Linked DNA regions of Homo sapiens: region 1 is linked to region 2. Evidence: fine-mapped expression QTL. A gene starts in region 2. The other region holds a variant in brackets. All regions are shown on one strand. Distances are from middle to middle. Region 1 holds the start of VPS9D1-AS1 (VPS9D1 antisense RNA 1). Region 2 holds the start of LINC02166 (long intergenic non-protein coding RNA 2166).

Region 1 (8,366 bases), 27 kb before region 2:
TTGAGGGAGAGGACAGCCTGGGAGTGGAGCCTCAGGTGAGGACTGAGGATGGCAGTGGCCAGACCACCCAGGATGGGAGCAGTAAACGGCCTCGGGGTGCGTCCTGAAGGTGGAACAGAGCAGACTTGCAGGAGGCAGATGGGGCAGGAGCAAACTGGCAAGGAGAGGAATAGCAAGTTCCGCAATGAACACATTAAGTTTGAGAGGCCAGCAGCCGCTGCACAAAGGATCACAGAGGTCAGGGGGAGCCACTGGACATAGAGCACAGAGGTCAGGGGGAGCCACTGGACGTGGGATCACAGAGGTCAGGGGGACCCACTGGACGTGGGAGCACAGAGGTCGGGGGAGCCACTGGACGTGGGAGCACAGAGGTCGGGGGAGCCACTGGACGTGGGAGCACAGAGGTCGGGGGAGCCACTGGACGTGGGATCACAGAGGTCGGGGGAGCCCCTGGACGTGGGATCACAGAGGTCGGGGCAGCCACTGGACGTAGGATCACACAGGTCAGGGGGAGCTAACAGTTGCCCCAGCTCCCTAGGGAGCCGGTGAGCTCGGCTGAGCTCTGGCGCTCCAAGATTGAGGAGTTGGGTGGAGGAGTGGCAGAGGATCCCCTGGGGAGAGCAAAGTCCCAGAAGACAGAGGAACTCCAGTGGCCCACCGTGTCTGGCAAGGTGGGGACGGGTAAGGGCAGTTTCCGGGGGGAGTCGGGGGCTAAATCGGGGCGGGATGAGAAAATGGGAGTCTATGAGAAGTTTTCTGTGAAGGGCAGCAGGGAGGTGGGTCAGGCGCTGGGGCGGTGGGTCCAGGGGCGAGTCACAGAGAGGCAGCTCCCACGGCGCGCAGAAGGGCTGTGTGAGCAGGTCCATGGTCGCGCAGAGGTGCTCCATGCCAAGCTACGGGAAGGCAGGACTTTGGGGACACAGCCGGTGGGAGATGGGTGAGGCGATCCCCTCAGCACGTCCTTGTCTCTGTAAAACGGCCACTTCCCAGAGGCCTGCAGTTGCAAGTGAAGCTGAGTGAGCACTAAAGGCCTGTTTAGGGTCGAGGCTGTGACGGGCCTCGATGAGGGGCCCACAGCCTTAGCAGACTCAGGAGGCAAAACCAGGGCAGATGATTAGAAATGCGTGGGTGGGGGGACTTGCCTGGGGTCCATGGTGGGGGCAGGGGCCTTGCCTGGGGTCCATGAGGAATAGTCGGCTTGCCCGGGGTCAGTGGGGGGTGGAAGGGGCAGTGGGCTTACCCGGGGTGAGGGGATGGGGGGGCAGTGGGCTTGCCTAGGGTCAGTCAGTTGGGGGACGGGAGGGGCAGTGGGCTTACCCGGGGTGAGGGGATGGGGGGGCAGTGGGCTTGCCCAGGGTCAGTGAGGGGATGGGGGGGCAGTGGGCTTGCCCGGGGTCAGTGGGGGTGCTGAGGGGGGCAGTGGGCTTGCCTGCCTTTTCCGTTGCCTCATTTTATCTCAGCAGTAAGTAACAGTGGTAGAGCCGACTGTGACCAGCCTTCTTGTCCCTCCCCCAGAAGCTGGGGAAACTGTGCCCCCCGACACCTCCAAGATGCTGAAGCTAGCACAGCAGTGTCTGGAGAGGGCCCAGTCGACGGCCGCCAAGCTTGGTGGGTCTCCTGCAGTAGGCGGCTCTCCTGGGGCATCCCCCAAGCCCGCATCTCCTCTGTGGGATGTGGCCCACCGCTTGACCCCTGGTTACCCATGGCTTGCAGGGAAAACACGCCTGAAGCCAACCATGCCTGCAGCTGCTCCCATTCCCCAGCCTGCCGGCCGACACCGCCGTGTATACTCCGATGAAGGAGGAAAGCTCTCTCCTTTTCTGCCACCCGAGATCTTCCAGAAGCTTCAGGGGGCAGAGTCACAAAGCTGTAAGAAGTAAGATGGACAAGATGGGAGGTGGGATGAGCCTGGGATTGGGTTTTTGAGGCTGAGAAAGATGAGCTGATGACAGCGATTTTTTTTTTGTTTTTTGAGACAGAGTCTCACTCTGTCACCCAGGCTGGAGTGCAGCGGCTCAATCTTGGCTCACGGCAACCTCCACCTCCCGGGTTCACACCATTCTTCTGCCTCAGCCTCCCAAGTAGCTGAGACTACAGGCGCCCACCACCACACCCAGCTAATTTTTTGTATTTTTAGTAGAGACGGGGTTTTGCCATGTTAGCCAGGATGGTTTCGATCTCCTGACCTCGTGATGCGCCTGCCTCGGCCTCCCACAGTGCTGGGATTACAGCGTGAGTCACCGCGCCCGGCCCCCACAGTGCTGGGATTACAGGCATGAGCCACTGCGCCTGGCCTGACAGCGAATGTTTTTAAAATGAGTCCCAGAATGGGAATATCCCCTGGCCGGACACAAGCAAATGCAGGCGGCCTGGTGGCTCACGCCTGTAATCCCAGCACTGTAGGAGGCCGAGGCGAGCAGATCACCTGAGGTCAGGAGTTCCTGACCAGCCTGGCCAACATGGTAAAACCCCGTCTTTACTAAAAATACAAAAATTAGCTGGCCGTGGTGGTGTGCACCTGTAATCCCAGCTACTCAGGAGGCTGAGTCCAGGAGAATCGCTTGATCCTGGAAGGTGGAGGTTGCAGTGAGCGAAGATTGTGCCACTGCACTCCAGCCTGGGCAACAAGAGTGAAACTCCGTCTCAAAAAAAATTAGGCATAGTGGTGTGCCCCTGTAGTCCCAACTACTAGGGAGGCTGAGGTGGGAGGCTCACTTGAGCCTGACAGGTTGAGGGTGCAGTGAGCCGTGATTGTGCCAGTGCACTCCAGCTTGGGCAACAAAATGAGACTCTGTCTAAAAAAAAAAAAAATGACCGGGCGCGGTGGCTCACGCCTGTAATCCCAGCACTTTGGGAGGCCGAGGTGGGTGGATCATGAGGTCAGGAGATCGAGACCATCCTGGCCAACAAGGTGAAACCCCATCTCTACTAAAAATACAAAAAATTAGCTGGGCGTGGTGGCGGGCACCTATAGTCCCAGCTACTCAGGAGGCTGAGGCAGGAGAATCCCTTGAACCCAGGAGGCAGAGGTTGCAGTGAGTTGAGATTGCGCCACTGCATTCCAGCCTGGGCGACAGAGCAAGACTCCATCTCAAAAAAAAAAAAAAAAAAATTTAGCTGGGAACAAGGATGAGTTATATATCTATATATATGTAGAAATCCATACATACAAAACTGAGCAGACAAGTTTATAACAGCAGAGCAGATATAGCTGAAGAGCAAATTCATGTATTGGAAAAAAGGTCAAAAGATAGCTAGAATGAATTACAGAAACAAAAAATAAAGACAGAAAACAAGAGATGGAAAGCCTAACGTGTTCGTTGGAGTTCCAGAAAGAAAATGGGAGGGAGGCCAAGGCAGGCAGATCACAAGGTCAGGAGTTCAAGACCAGCCTGGCTAACATGGTGAAACCCCATCTCTACTAAAAATACAAAACTTAGCTGGGCATGGTGGCGCGTGCCTGTAACCCCAGCTACTTGGGAGGCTGAGGCAGGAGAATCGCTTGAACCCAGGAGGTGGAGGTTGCAGTGAGCCAAGATCGTGCCACTGCACTCCAGCCTAGCAACAGAGCGAGACTCCGGCTCAAAAAAAAAGAAGAAAGAAAATGGGAGAGAGGCATTATTAGAAGTTAGAATGGCAGACAGTTGTCTAGAACTGATGAAAGATACAAAGACACAAATGCAAAAAGCCCAGTGACTCCCAAGTGGGAGAGACGAGAAGGGTCCACTCCTCCTGCCCCTGCTCTGGCGGGGCCTGGCTTCCCAGTCCCCTTGTTTCTGCAATGTGGCTTCAGGGCAGGGTGGCCAGGCGTCAGGCTCTGACTTTCCTCCTTGT[C/T]CTCCATTGTCCCTGACAGTGGGAAGGTACGAGGGAACAAAGCTTTCAAGGTGGAGTGGCTGTTGGGAACTGTATAAAGGAGACAGGACACTTCTTCCTTTCATGGGTCACAGACTAATCTGGCTGTTTGACCCACATAGTGCCTTTAAAGCAGGGGTGTCCAATCTTTTGCCTTCCCTGGGCCACACTGGAAGAATTGTCTTGGGCCACACATAAAATACGCTAACACTAACAACAGCCGATGAGCTTAAAAAAAAAAATTGCAAGGCTGGGCGCAGTGGCTCCCGCCTGTAATCCCAGCACTTTGGAAGGCCAAGGCGGGCAGATTACCTGAGGTCAGGAGTTCGAGATCAGCCTGGCCAACATGATGAAACCCCATCTCTACTAAAAAATACAAAAATTAGCTGGGCGTGGTGTCACATGCCTGTAATCCCAGCTACTCGGGAGGCTGAGGCAGGAGAATCACTTGAACCCAGGAGGCGGAGGTTGCAGTGAGTTGAGATTGTGTCACTGCACTCCAGCCTGGGCGACAGAATGAGACTGACTCAAAAAAAAAAATTTTGCAAAAAAACCTCAGTGATTTTTTGAGACAGAGTCTCTATCACCCAGGCTGGAGCACAGGCACATGCCACCACACCCGGCTAATTTTTTGTATTTTTAATAGAGACGGGGTTTCACCATGTTAGCCAGGATGGTCTCAATCTCCTGACCTCATTATCCGCCTGCCTCATCCTCCCAAAGTGCTGGGATTACAGGCGTGAGCCACCGTGCCCAGCCCTCAGTGATGTTTTAAGAAAGTTTAGGAATTTGTGTTGGGCCACATTCGAAGTCATACAGCCTCGGATTGTTGCACAAGCTTGCTTTAACAAGATTCATACTGTTGCCAAACACATATAACGGATCTCCATAGAAGTCCAGTGGTCCAGCTTCTCTTGAAAAACCAAAAGTCCGGCCGGGCGCGGTAGCTCACGCCTGTAATCCCAGTACTTTGGGAGGCCGAGGCGGGTGGATCACGAGGTCAGGAGATCAAGACCATCCTGGTTAATGCGGTGAAACCCCGTCTCTACTAAAAATACAAAAAATTAGCCGGGCATAGTGGCGGGCACCTGTAGTCCCAGCTACTCAGGAGGCTGAGGCAGGAGAATGGCATGAACCCGGGAGGCGGAGTTTGCAGTGAGCCGAGATTGCGCCACTGCGCTCCAGCCTGGGCGACAGAGCGAGACTCCGTCTCAAAAAAAAAAAGAAAAAAAGAAAAACCAAAAGTCCTGGCAATACCAAAACCTGTGTTTTCTTTCTTTTTGTTATTTTTTGTTTTGGTTTTGTTTTTTTGAGACAGAGTCTCACTCTATCACCCCAGCTGGAGTGCAGTGGCCAGATCTCGGCTCACTGCATCACCTCCCGGGATCAAGCTATTCTGCCTCAGCCTCCCGAGTAGCTGGGATTACAAGTGTGCACCATGCCCAGCTAATTTTTGTATTTTTAGTAGAGACAGAGTTTCACCATGTTGGCCAGGCTGGTCTCGAACTCCTGACCTCAGGTGATCCGCCCGGCCTTAGCCTCCTAAAGTGCTGGCATTAGAGGCGGGAGCCACTGCACCTGGCCAAAACCTGTGTTTTGGAAGGGCAGGCAAGAAGGGGCAGATGTTGCAGCCCACCCCAGATGGCTCCCCTCCTCTTTCTCCTCACCTCCTGGCCTCAGAGCAATCCGGGAGGATGAGAGAGACTCCTCTGGTGTCCAGACACCACTGGGCTTCCTGGGGTCTAGACAGCAGCTTGTCACATTTCCAGAGAGCTGACGCCACTGGAGGAGGCCTCCCTGCAGAATCAGAAGCTGAAGGCTGCGTATGAGGCCCGAATGGCGCGGCTAGACCCCAGCCAGGCCATGCAGAAGACATCCCTGGTGAGTGGGGGCTAGGGAGGGCCTGGGGGTGCGTGGGCGCGGGGCAGAGGGGAGTCGGCCTTACTCCCTCCTCCCCCCCCAGACCCTCTCTCTACAGCGGCAGATGATGGAGAACCTAGTGATTGCCAAAGCCCGGGAGGAGACAGCAGCCTTTCTGACCGCCCTGGTGGTCCCCGAGGGGAAACTCAGTGTGGCCTTGAGCCAAGGGCAGAGAAGGGGGCAGCGAGGGGAGCGGAGGTTCCGGGGTCGGGGTACAGGGCCGAGGGGCTCCCCGCTTTGCAGAGGCAGGGTCTCAGGGGAAGGCCCGGCCGCCGTCCCCCATGTTCTCTGGCCCGGCCCTCCTGGCTTGAGCGCAGGCTGCCTTCTGCCCCAGAAGCCTTACCTGGGGACAGCCCCTCACCGAGAGGAGGTCCCTGGGACGTCCCGGCCTCTCCGGGTGTGGGACGGGGTTGGGAACCGAGGGCCCGCTCAGATCCCACGCTCGGCCCCTTGACTCTGCACCCAGCTCCAGAGAAAGATGGAGGAGCGCCGGCTGCGGCTCCAGGAGGCCGCCAACAGGTGGGACTCCTGCCCGCCCCTGGGGCCGCTGCGGGGAGGGCCTGGCCCCGGCACCCACCGCGTGCCTTTCTCCCCAGGAGGTTTTGCAGCCAAGTCGCCCTGACCCCGGAGGAACGGGAGCAGCGGGCCCTTTACGCCGCCATCCTGGAGTACGAACAGGACCATGTGCGTCCCCCACGGGCCCAGGCTTTGTAGGAGGAGCCCAGCGAGGGGGGCGGGGTCAGAGCCGCCTGGGTGGGCCCCCGTGGGGGGCGGAGCCAGAGGCTGTGGGGGGCAGTGAGGGGGCGGGGCCAGAGGCCCGTGGGAGGGCCCGGTGAGGGGGCGGGGCCAGGGCTGCGTGGGGCGGGGCAGAGCGAGGAGGCGAGGTCAGGGGTCGCGTGGGAGGGTCCCAGCGAGGAGGGAGGGTCCCTGCGAGGAGGGAGGGTCCCAGCGAGGGTGCAGGCCCAGGGTTCGCCTAAGGTTTCCCTCGGGTGTGGGTGGGGGCGGGGGCGGGTCGCGGGGCCTGCTGGCGCTGGGTCTCCTGCACCCCAGGACGGGCTCCCACAGTCTCTAGGGGTCGGCACTGGTGGGAGATGAGGCGCGTCCGGTCGTGGCGGACCCACCGTGCTTTCCTTCAAGGCCCCCTGTCCCGTAGGACTGGCCGAAGCACTGGAAGGCCAAGCTCAAGAGGAATCCGGGGGACCTGTCACTCGTGACCAGCCTGGTCTCACACCTGCTCAGGTAGCTGGGCCTTCAGGCCCCACAGAGCCCCTGCGCACCGGCCTTGGGCACCTCTGCCTGGTGCCAGGTGCCGGAGAGGGGCTGGACTGACACAGGGAGCCTGTGCCCGGCCACGTGGACACTGCAGCTCCCTTTGCGCTGAGGGCGTTTCCTCGGCTTCTCCAACCTCCCCAGCGGGGGCGGGGGGCAGACTTTCCAACATTCACTGTCAGGAGGTAATGCAAGTCGCTTCTCTGAAACCGGGCATAGCGCGGCACCTGTGGATGCCACGGAGAGGCCGAGGCTGGCCGCGTTCTCACGTCCTCTTCTCCCGCAGCCTCCCCGACCACCCGATCGCGCAGCTCCTGAGGCGGCTGCAGTGCTCCGTGTACAGCGCCCTGTATCCCGCCGTGAGCAGAGCAGCCGCGCCAGCCCCAGGCTGCTGCCCCCCGACCCCCAACCCCGGAAGCCGACGGCTGCGGCCCTCGCAGAGCCTCCATTGCATGCTGTCCCCGCCCGAGCCCAGCGCAGCCCCGCGGCCCCAGGACAGTCCCCCCACGCCCCCACTCCAACCCGGCCCCGTGGGGTCTCCCTCACCCCTGGGGGACACCGCATCTGGATTGCCAGACAAGGACAGCTCGTTCGAGGACCTGGAGCAGTTCCTGGGGACGTCTGAGCGGCAGGGCCGGGGCCGTGGGGTACAGCCGGAGCCCCAGCTGCAGCAGCTGAAGACCGCGGTGGAGGAGATCCACAATGCCGTAGGTGAGGCCAGGCCCTCCCTGGGAGAGCCGCCGCAGCTCTTCACCCCTGCTTATTGGTCCGTTTCAAGCTTCTGTTTGGGGAAGGGTCTGTTGATCAGAGACTCTGATCAGACTTACATCCACCCAGCTCACGCCTCAGCCCTTCTCATTTTGGAAACAGTGTGGTAGAAACGGAGTTTCACCATGTTGGTCAAGCTGTTCTCAAACTCCTGACCTCAGTTGATCTGCCCACCCCGGCCTCCCAAAGTGCTGGGATTACAAGCATGAGCCACCGCGCCCAGCCCAGAGTTTTCTAAGAACCACTGAGGGAGGCCCAACAGTCCAGGCGTCATTCTCACTGTGCTGCCCACACACTAAGGAACTTGGTCAGGGTCCCCACCCACAGGGGGTTGGATCTAAAGTCTTCCCTGGTTCCTGCAGTTTTGGGTAAAGCCCCTTTTGAGAAAAGGATCATTCTCCGGTTTCTTCTCAGGCTGCTGGCCCAACAGGGCAGCAGCTGTAGGTGACCGTTTCCAGTCCCGGACTCCCTGCCCTGGGCCGAGGAGGGTCAGGGGTGGGTGCAGGAGGCTTGAAGGCGGTGGAAAGAGGTTTCTTGGGCGGAGAAAGGCCCCGTGG
Region 2 (8,028 bases):
GAGGCCGGCCCCCGCTACAAGCACCGTGCAGTCGCTCTGAGGAAACTTCAGGTAACTCACATCCTTCTGCCTCCTCCCAGTGCGAGGTCCCAACACCCCAATTTCCTGCTCACCATCCTTCTCCTTGTCCATCCGCACCTTCTTCAGTGCGACAATCTCATCTGTCTGGGTGTCCCGGGCCCGATCTGGAATGGAAACACATTGGTGATGACATCATCTCGATGCCCCTCGTGGGCTCCCTAGCGCTGAACGGGAGGCTCTCCCTGAGCCACAGGGGTCCCCGTTCTTTCCTCTGACAACCTCATGCCCAGTGACACTCAGTCCCCACTCTGTGCAACGCCCCTAGCCCGAGACGCGTTCCCCCGGAGGGTTTCCTCATTTGAACTGGGCAGGGGGTGCCCAACTTTGCTCTGTGCTGGACCCTGGCCTCCAGCCACTCAGTTCTGTGGCTCCAGGCTCTCCATGTCCTCCTTAGCATGCAGATCACTGCTTTGTGCTCTCTTGTAATGTCCTAAAAGCAAATAAGGTACTCTATGCAGAAAAAAGCAAACCTTATTTTGTGTGAAGATGGCTCTACAAAACATCCTGCTAATGTGTGCAGCTTCCAGAATGACCTACGCCAATTTCACATCTGTTATAACCTTTAGTTGTGTGTGGTGTTTTTGGTTTTTTTGAGACAGGGTCTCACTCTGTTGCCAAGGCTGGGGTGCAGTGGCGTGATCACAGCTCACTGCAGCCTCAAACTCCTAGGCTTGGCCGGGTGCAGTGGCTCACACCTGTAATCCCAGTGCTTTGGGAGGCCGAGGCAGGAGGATCATTTGAGCCCAGAAGTTCAAGACCAGCCTGGGCAACATAGGGAGATCCCATCTCTACCAAAAATTTAAAAATTAGCTGGGTGTGCTTATGTACTCTTGTGGTCCCAGATACTCAGGAGGCTGAGGTGGGAGGATCACTTGAGCCTAGGAGGTCGAGGCCGCAGTGAGCTATGATCATGCCACTGCACTCCAGTCTGGGCAATAGAGCAAGACCCATCTCAAAAACAAACAAAAAGAAAAAACACCTGGGCTCAGGTGACTCCTCCAGAGTTGCTGAGGTGATAGACATGAGCACCATGTCCAGCTCCTGCTGCTTCTGGAAAGTTCTGTATTTTATTTCTCTAACAGTTCTGTGTACTCTGCAGTGACACGTTTGGATTATGGGCATTAGCAACCGGATGCTTACGTTTACCCAGAAATGGTACAATGTTTGTGATAACTACATCAGGAATTGAAGTTCCTGAACAGGTTTCTGCCCTGTTTCAGAGCACAGGGTCTGAGTCCCTTCCAGCCCCAACGCGGCTGCTGCTTCGACAGTCTCGTCCCACACTGTCACAGCCACGAGCTGCGGCCACATGTCCTAGCCTTGGCCACTCACACACAATGCCGTAGGTACCCTCTCCAATGCGGTTCAGCTTCTCAAACTCCTTCACACTCCGGCATCGTCCCAGCTGAAACAGAAGGGTGTTGCCAGTGTGGAAATTTGGCAGCTGATGGAACAACTGAGGAAATTTCAAATGGAATTTGTACCAGGGAGCCCACTCACGTCTTGCTCACCAAACAGAAAGGCAACCACACGTTTGGGCTTTTTTTTTCTTTTTTTGAGACTGAGTCTCGCTCTGTTGCCCAGGCTGGAGTGCAGTGGCAAGAACATGGTTCACTGCAACCTCCGCCTCCTGGGTTCAAGTGATTCTCCGGCCTCAGCCTCCTGAGTAGCTGGGATTACAGGCAGGTGCCACCACAACCGCCTAATTTTCTATTTTTAGTAGAGACTGGGTTTCACCATGTTGGCCAGGCTGGTCTTGAGCTCCTGACCTCAAGTGATCTGCCCGCCTTGGCCTCCCAAAGTGCTGGGATTACAAGCGTGAGCCACCGTACCCGGCCTCTTGGGCTTTTCTGATGAGAAAAGGTGGTGACGATACTGGGCCAATGCTTTGAAAGAAATATCAGAGGCGGCCACTCAGATACTCCCTTTCAATCCCACATACAAAAATACATCTGTGGCAGAGGCTGCTGTCCCAGCATCCCTGTATCACTACCTCCTGGAAGTTATGAAACGCTACCCAGTGGCATCTGGCCTTGGAATGTGAGCTGAAGGGACCGTGTGACTTCCAGGTGAAAGGAAGCTTTCACCTCTTCTCACCTCAGTGACGGGAAGAAAAAATGGAACCAGAATGCCTGACCCACCTGTGCAAAACAACTGCTTCTCTCCAGAATGTTAGGGGAGAGTGAAAAAAGGCATCATCTTGAGGCCCTGTATTTTGGGGTCTCTGAACTAGTAGAGTCTGTATCCTTCTCCATGGATCTAAGAAGCACATGTAAGCCGGGCGCAGTGGCTCACGCCTGTAATCCCAGCACTTTAGGAGGCTGAGGTGGGTGGATCACGAAGTCAGGAGATCTAGAGCACCCTGACTAACACGGTGAAACTCCGTCTCTACTAAAAATATGAAAAAATTAGCTGGGCGTGGTGGCGGGCGCCTGTAGTCCCAGCTGCTTGGGAGGCTGAGGCAGGAGGATGGCGTGAACCCAGGAGGTGGAGCTTGCAGTGAGCCGAGACTGCGCCACTGCACTCCAGCCTGGGTGACAGAATGAGACTCCGTCTCAAAAAAAAAAAAAAAAAAAAAAGCACACGTAGCAAGGTTTGAAACCTCACAGCCCCCATTTCCCGGCTTCCCTTCTCTTAACCCTCAGTATCAAACCTGGGCTCAAGCAATCCTCCCACCTCAGCCTCCCAGATTGCTGAGATTACAGGTGTGAGCCACTGGCCGCATTTGTCCTCAGTCTGATTCCTTCCTGACACCTGGGGACCGAGTCAGAAGCATCTGGCCTGTCACTCACTGATGGCCTAGTCTCAAACTCCCTTTCCCGCCTTAATTCCCCTTCTCACATCCTCTGCTTGTGCTCTTCTCGACACGCTTATTTCTGGGTGTCCAAATCCTTGTCACACTTCCTGAACTCAAAGAAATGCCAGGCCAGGCTGGGGGCGGTGGCTCACGCCTGTAATTCCAGCACTTGGGAGGCCGAGGCAGGAAGATCACTTGAGCCCAGGAGGCTGACGATGCACTGAGCCGTGATCACGCCACTGCATTCCAGCCTGGGCGAGAGCGCTAGACCCTGTCTCAAAAAAACAACAAAAAAGAAAAGGCCAACTCACTACTTCACCCCAGAGTCCAGCACACGGCTCTCAACGCGGTGAGCGCCTGCTGCACGTCTGGATGAGTAAAGTGTGGCTCCTGTTGTCATCCAGCCACGATCTGTTAATGATTCTTACTGAACACGTGGCTTGGCCTCTCAGAGCACCAGCCAGCAGTTAAAAACACAAACCAGCGGCCAAAGTTCAGGGCTCTCCACCCCCACCAGCCGTGCACCTGGGCAACACCGCCCAACGCCCAGAGGCTCTCTCCTGGTCTCTGCAGAGGGAGGCACCGGCACCTCCGCAAGGGACGCGCCCAGGGTTCGCGTGAAGCCGCCAGGCAGCGCTGGACCCCGCTCCATGCAGCCCAAGCCCAGCGGGAGCCTTCAAGCTCGAACTCGTCGCGGGTGTAAATTCTCCCCACAAACAAGTGGCTCGCGGCTCAGCCTGCAAAGCCCAGCTCGGGCGCTGAACCCAGCAGCGCCCGAGCTGGATCCCGGAGCTTGCTCTTCCCAAGTCCCGGGCCCGTCTCTCCGCGGGCGCGAGGCATCCCTGAGCCCGCCCCGGCCCCTCAGATCTCCAGGGACCGGCTGTCGGGGGTCCTGAGCCCGCCCCGCCCCGGCTTCCGCCCCCGCCGCGGGGAACTCTGGGACTGTCGTTCCCGCCCGTGCCGGAAGCCTCGGCGCGGCAGCGCGACACGAGGCTCCCCAGACCCAGCCGGGCAGTGCCGCTAGCGAGGCGGGCAGAGCTGCCCGGGTGGCACCCCGCGCACCCTGTGTTCCGGAGGCACCGTGAAGAAGCCCTCCTTACGAATACACTTCAGACGGATCTGCTCGCACTCCAGATCTGGCTCCGCCATGCCGAGCGCTGGCCCCGCCTCTCTTGCGCGCAGGCGCAGACGCGGACGGCCCCGCGGCGCAGGCGCGAAAGCTCCTTCCCGGGCTTCCTCTCCTTAGCAACGGTTACCAAGAGACGCTCCCGCGGGTCCGCCCTAGGCGCTGGGCTCCAGGGATCGGCTCCGACTGCTGCAGTTCGGGCCTTATTTTAGGGTGAAGCCCGGGCAGCCGACCCGGCTGCGCCGTAGTGGGAGGCCACGGCGATTACCCAGGTGAAGGTCTTCCAGGTGAGACGGGTTCCCCCAGGTAAGAAGGTCCTCCAGGTGGGAGTCCTTCATGTGGGGAGGTCCTCCAGGTGGGGGGGGAGGGTCCTCTCGGTGGGGGGTCCTCCAGGTAAGAGGATCCTCTAGGTGGGGGGGGGGGGTTCCCCAGGTGAAGGGCCCTCCAGGTAAGAGGATCCTCTAGGTGGGGGGGGGGTTCCCCAGGTGAGGGGACCTCCAGGTAAGAGGATCCTCTAGGTGGGGGAGTCCCCCAGGTGAAGGGCCCTCCAGGTAAGAGGGTCCTCCAGGTGAGAGGGTCCTCCAGCGGAGGGGGTCCCCCAGGTAAGAGGGTCCTCCAGTTGGGAGTCCTTCAGGTGGGGTGGTCCTCCAGGTGAGAGAGTCTTCCAGGTGAGAGGGTCCTCCAGGTGAGAGGTGAAGGTGAAGGTCCTCCAGGTGAGGGTCAGGTCACTTGGTCCAGGGATGTGGCTTCAGCAAGCATTTGGGTGCCTCCTCTGTGTTCAGGACATGGGGACTCCAGGAGACTGAAGGAAGCAAGTGGCAATGTCCATGCTGTCAAGTTCTGTCACAGAAATAAGCAGGAGTGAGTGAAAGACAGGAGAGAAGCTCTGTGAGGGGTGGCATTCAAGCTTAGCTTCTGGGCAGGAAGAGGCAGCTATGTCAGCATTCCCTAACAAGGTTTGGCAAAGTAGATACCTCCCCTCACTCATGGAAGACCTGACTTCCCAGGCTGGTAGAAGCTTCTCTCACAGGCACCTGCCTCTCCAATCTCTTTCACAGCCCAGCCCTGGAAGGTGGAAAAAGAAAAGTTGACATGGAATGTTTAGGAAGCACCATTGGTCCAGGTCCAGGATCGGGGCAGCCAGCATGTCCTCTAATCTGGCTTCACTGTTGAAATCCAGTCGAGCAAGCAGGGCCCAAACCACTGCGAGACCAGCTCGGTCGGGCCCAAACCACCGCCCACTGCGAGACCAGCTCGGTCGGGCCCAAACCACCGCCCACTGCGGGACCAGCTCGGTCGGGCCCAAACCACCGCCCACTGCGGGACCAGCTCGGTCGGGCCCAAACCACTGCCCACTGCGGGACCAGCTCGGTCGTGGAGACCCTAACCCAGCGGCGCTAGAGGAATTAAAGAAACACACACAGAAATATAGGGTGTGGAGTGGGAAATCAGGGGTCTCACAGCCTTCGAAGCTGAAAGCCTCGAACAGAGATTTACCCACATATTTATTGACAGCAAGCCAGTGATAAGCATTGTTTCTATAGATTATAGATTAAAAGCACTTCTTACGGGAAATAAAGGGATGGGTCTGGCTAGTTATCTGCAGCAGGAGCACGTCCTTAAGGCACAGATCGCTCATGCTATTGTTTGTGGTTCAGGAACTCCTTTAAGCGGTTTTCCGCCCTGGGTGGGCCAGGTGTTCCTTGCCCTCATTCCAGTGTGGGAGTCATGGCCATCATGAGCATGTCACAGTGCAGCAGAGATTTTGTTTATGGCCAGTTTTGCGGCCAGTTGATGGCCAGATTTGGGGGCCTCTTCCCAACAGCCCACAGCCAGACCTAGACTCCATTCAGATTGGTTTTGATCAGCATGTAGAAAATGGGGGAGTTGAGTGTGGTATACAAAATGGGGGTGTTGGCCAGGCGTGGTGGCTCATGCCTGTAATCCCAGCACTTTGGGAGTCTGAGGCGGGTCGATCACGAGGTCAGGAGATAGAGACCATCCTGGCTAACACAGTGAAACCCCATCTCCACTAAAAAATACAAAAAATTAGGCAGGCATGGTGGCGGGTGCCTGTAGTTGCAGCTACTCGGGAGGCTGAGGCAGGAGAATGGTGTGAACCCACGGGGCGGAGCTTGCAGTGAGCCAAGATCACACCACTACACTCCAGCCTGGGTGACAGAGTGAGACTCTGTCTCAAAAAAAAAAACAAAAAAAAAAGAAAATGCAGGTGTTGTGACCAGGCACAGTGGCTCATGCCTATAATCCCAACACTTTGGGAGGCCGAGGTAGGCAGATCACTTGAGGTCAGGAGTTCGAGACCAGCCTGGCCAACATGGTGAAACCCCGTCTCTACTAAAACTAACAAAATTAGCTGGGTGTGGTGGTGGTTGCCTGTAGTCCCAGGTACTCGGGAGGCTGAGGCAGGAGAATCGCTTGAACCCGGAAGGCGGAGGTTGCAGTGAGCCAAAATCGTGCCACTGCACTCCAGCCTGGGTAACAGAGTGAGACTTTGTGAAAGGAAGGAAGGAAGGGAGGGAGGGAGGAAAATAGAGGGAAGAAGAAAGAAAGAAAACAAAGAGCACGTGGAGAGAACAATCCTAGAAAACTGACGTAGGCTGTGTTCCTCTGAAGTCCATACACAGCAGGCAGGCGTGAAAGTGGTTTATGTATATAAATAGGTACCATTATTCTCTTCTGAGGTTTAAGTTGTCTAGCTTTCGTTCGCAGAGCTTTAAGAAAAGCACGGCTTTGGCCCGGCGCAGTGGCTCATGCCTATAATCCCAGCACTTTGGGAGGCCGAGGCCGGTGGATCATGAGGTCAGGAGTTCGAGACTAGCCTGGCCAACATGGTGAAACGCATCTCTACTAAAAATACAAAAAAATGAGCTGGCCATAGTGGTGCACACCAATAATCCCAGCTACTCGGGAGGCTGAGGCACGAGAATCACTTGAACCCAGGAGGCAGAGGTTGCAGTGAACTGATACCACACCACTGCCCGGGTGACAGAGTGAGACCCTGTCTGAAAAAACAAATAAACAAACAAAAAAAGAGAAAATAATAAAAGTTGAAAAACCTTAGGCAAGGCTAGAATCTAATAACAGGTATACTATAGTTTATTTTGAAACATAATTTTTCTCTCTCTAGTCTCCTATTTTTACCAAAGTGAAATCAGGTAGTACTGATTTGTTTTCAAAATAAGTTTTAGTCTTATTGTACTTGGCCTGGTTATTTGTATAAACTGTAGCAAGAATAAATATTTACCATGTAGGCTTTTTTTTTTTTTTTTTTTTTTGAGACGGAGTCTTGCTCTGTCGCCCAGGCTGGAGTGCAGTGGTGCGACCTCGGCTCACTGCAAGCTCCGCCTCCCAGGTTCACGCCATTCTCCTGCCTTAACCTCCCAAGTAGCTGGGACTACAGACGCCCGCCACCACGCCCGGCTAATTTTTTGTGTATTTTTAGTAGAGACGGGGTTTCACTGTGTTGACAAGGATGGTTGCAATCTCCTGACTTCGTGATCTGCCCGCCTTGGCCTCCCAAAGTGCTGGGATTACAGGCGTGAGCCACCGAGCCCGGCCACAAAAATTGTATCATTGAGAAAATTATGCCAATTGGGGAAGATCTGATGTAGCCAAACCCCCTTTGACCTTTAGCCTTCAAGCTGCCTTCAGTTATTCTTGGGCTAGCTTTGGGAGATGTTTATAGTTTACATGATAATAGCCCCTCCCCAAAACTCAACTGTATTTGTAAAACTAATGAGGGGCCACCAGGCTAGGGAGAGGAGAGGAGCCTGAATTTGGCTAAGATGTAGACATAAACAATTATCAGCCATTATTCCAGAGGTCCTGCAGATAACAATGCTATTGTAACCTAAGATTGGCCTTTTGCAGTACCTCGCAAGGGTTTTTTGCATGTCTGATACCTACGGCTCCAACAGGACCCACTGACTGATGATGGCTCCACCTGGACCTGCCAACTACTCCTGCAGCCCCACCCAGAAGCGGTTCAGCACACGGGAGGATC

What was found.
Region 1: its variant is fine-mapped to the expression of LINC02166 in tibial nerve (GTEx, PIP 0.99).

Annotation. Positions count from the first base shown.
Region 1 is chr16:89,709,972-89,718,337 of GRCh38, reverse strand. VPS9D1 (VPS9 domain containing 1) reads left to right here. Exons shown (of 15, transcript NM_004913.3): 3 at 1,516-1,608; 4 at 1,714-1,876; 5 at 5,622-5,733; 6 at 5,816-5,878; 7 at 6,239-6,291; 8 at 6,369-6,456; 9 at 6,926-7,011; 10 at 7,328-7,752. It overlaps VPS9D1-AS1 (VPS9D1 antisense RNA 1), which reads right to left and starts at 6,482. Exons shown (of 4, transcript NR_036480.1): 1 at 6,116-6,482; 2 at 5,520-5,649; 3 at 1,434-1,867; 4 at 173-994. RefSeq lists enhancers at 5,491-5,590, 7,088-7,651 and a silencer at 6,231-6,650. The variant C/T (reference allele first, on the strand shown) is at 3,835.
Region 2 is chr16:89,682,710-89,690,737 of GRCh38, reverse strand. LINC02166 (long intergenic non-protein coding RNA 2166) reads left to right here and starts at 3,826. Exons shown (of 3, transcript NR_184152.1): 1 at 3,826-4,291; 2 at 5,063-5,928; 3 at 7,562-8,028. CDK10 (cyclin dependent kinase 10) reads right to left here and starts at 4,049. Exons shown (of 13, transcript NM_052988.5): 1 at 3,941-4,049; 2 at 1,414-1,486; 3 at 114-185. The coding sequence starts at 4,027. RefSeq lists a silencer at 3,615-3,864.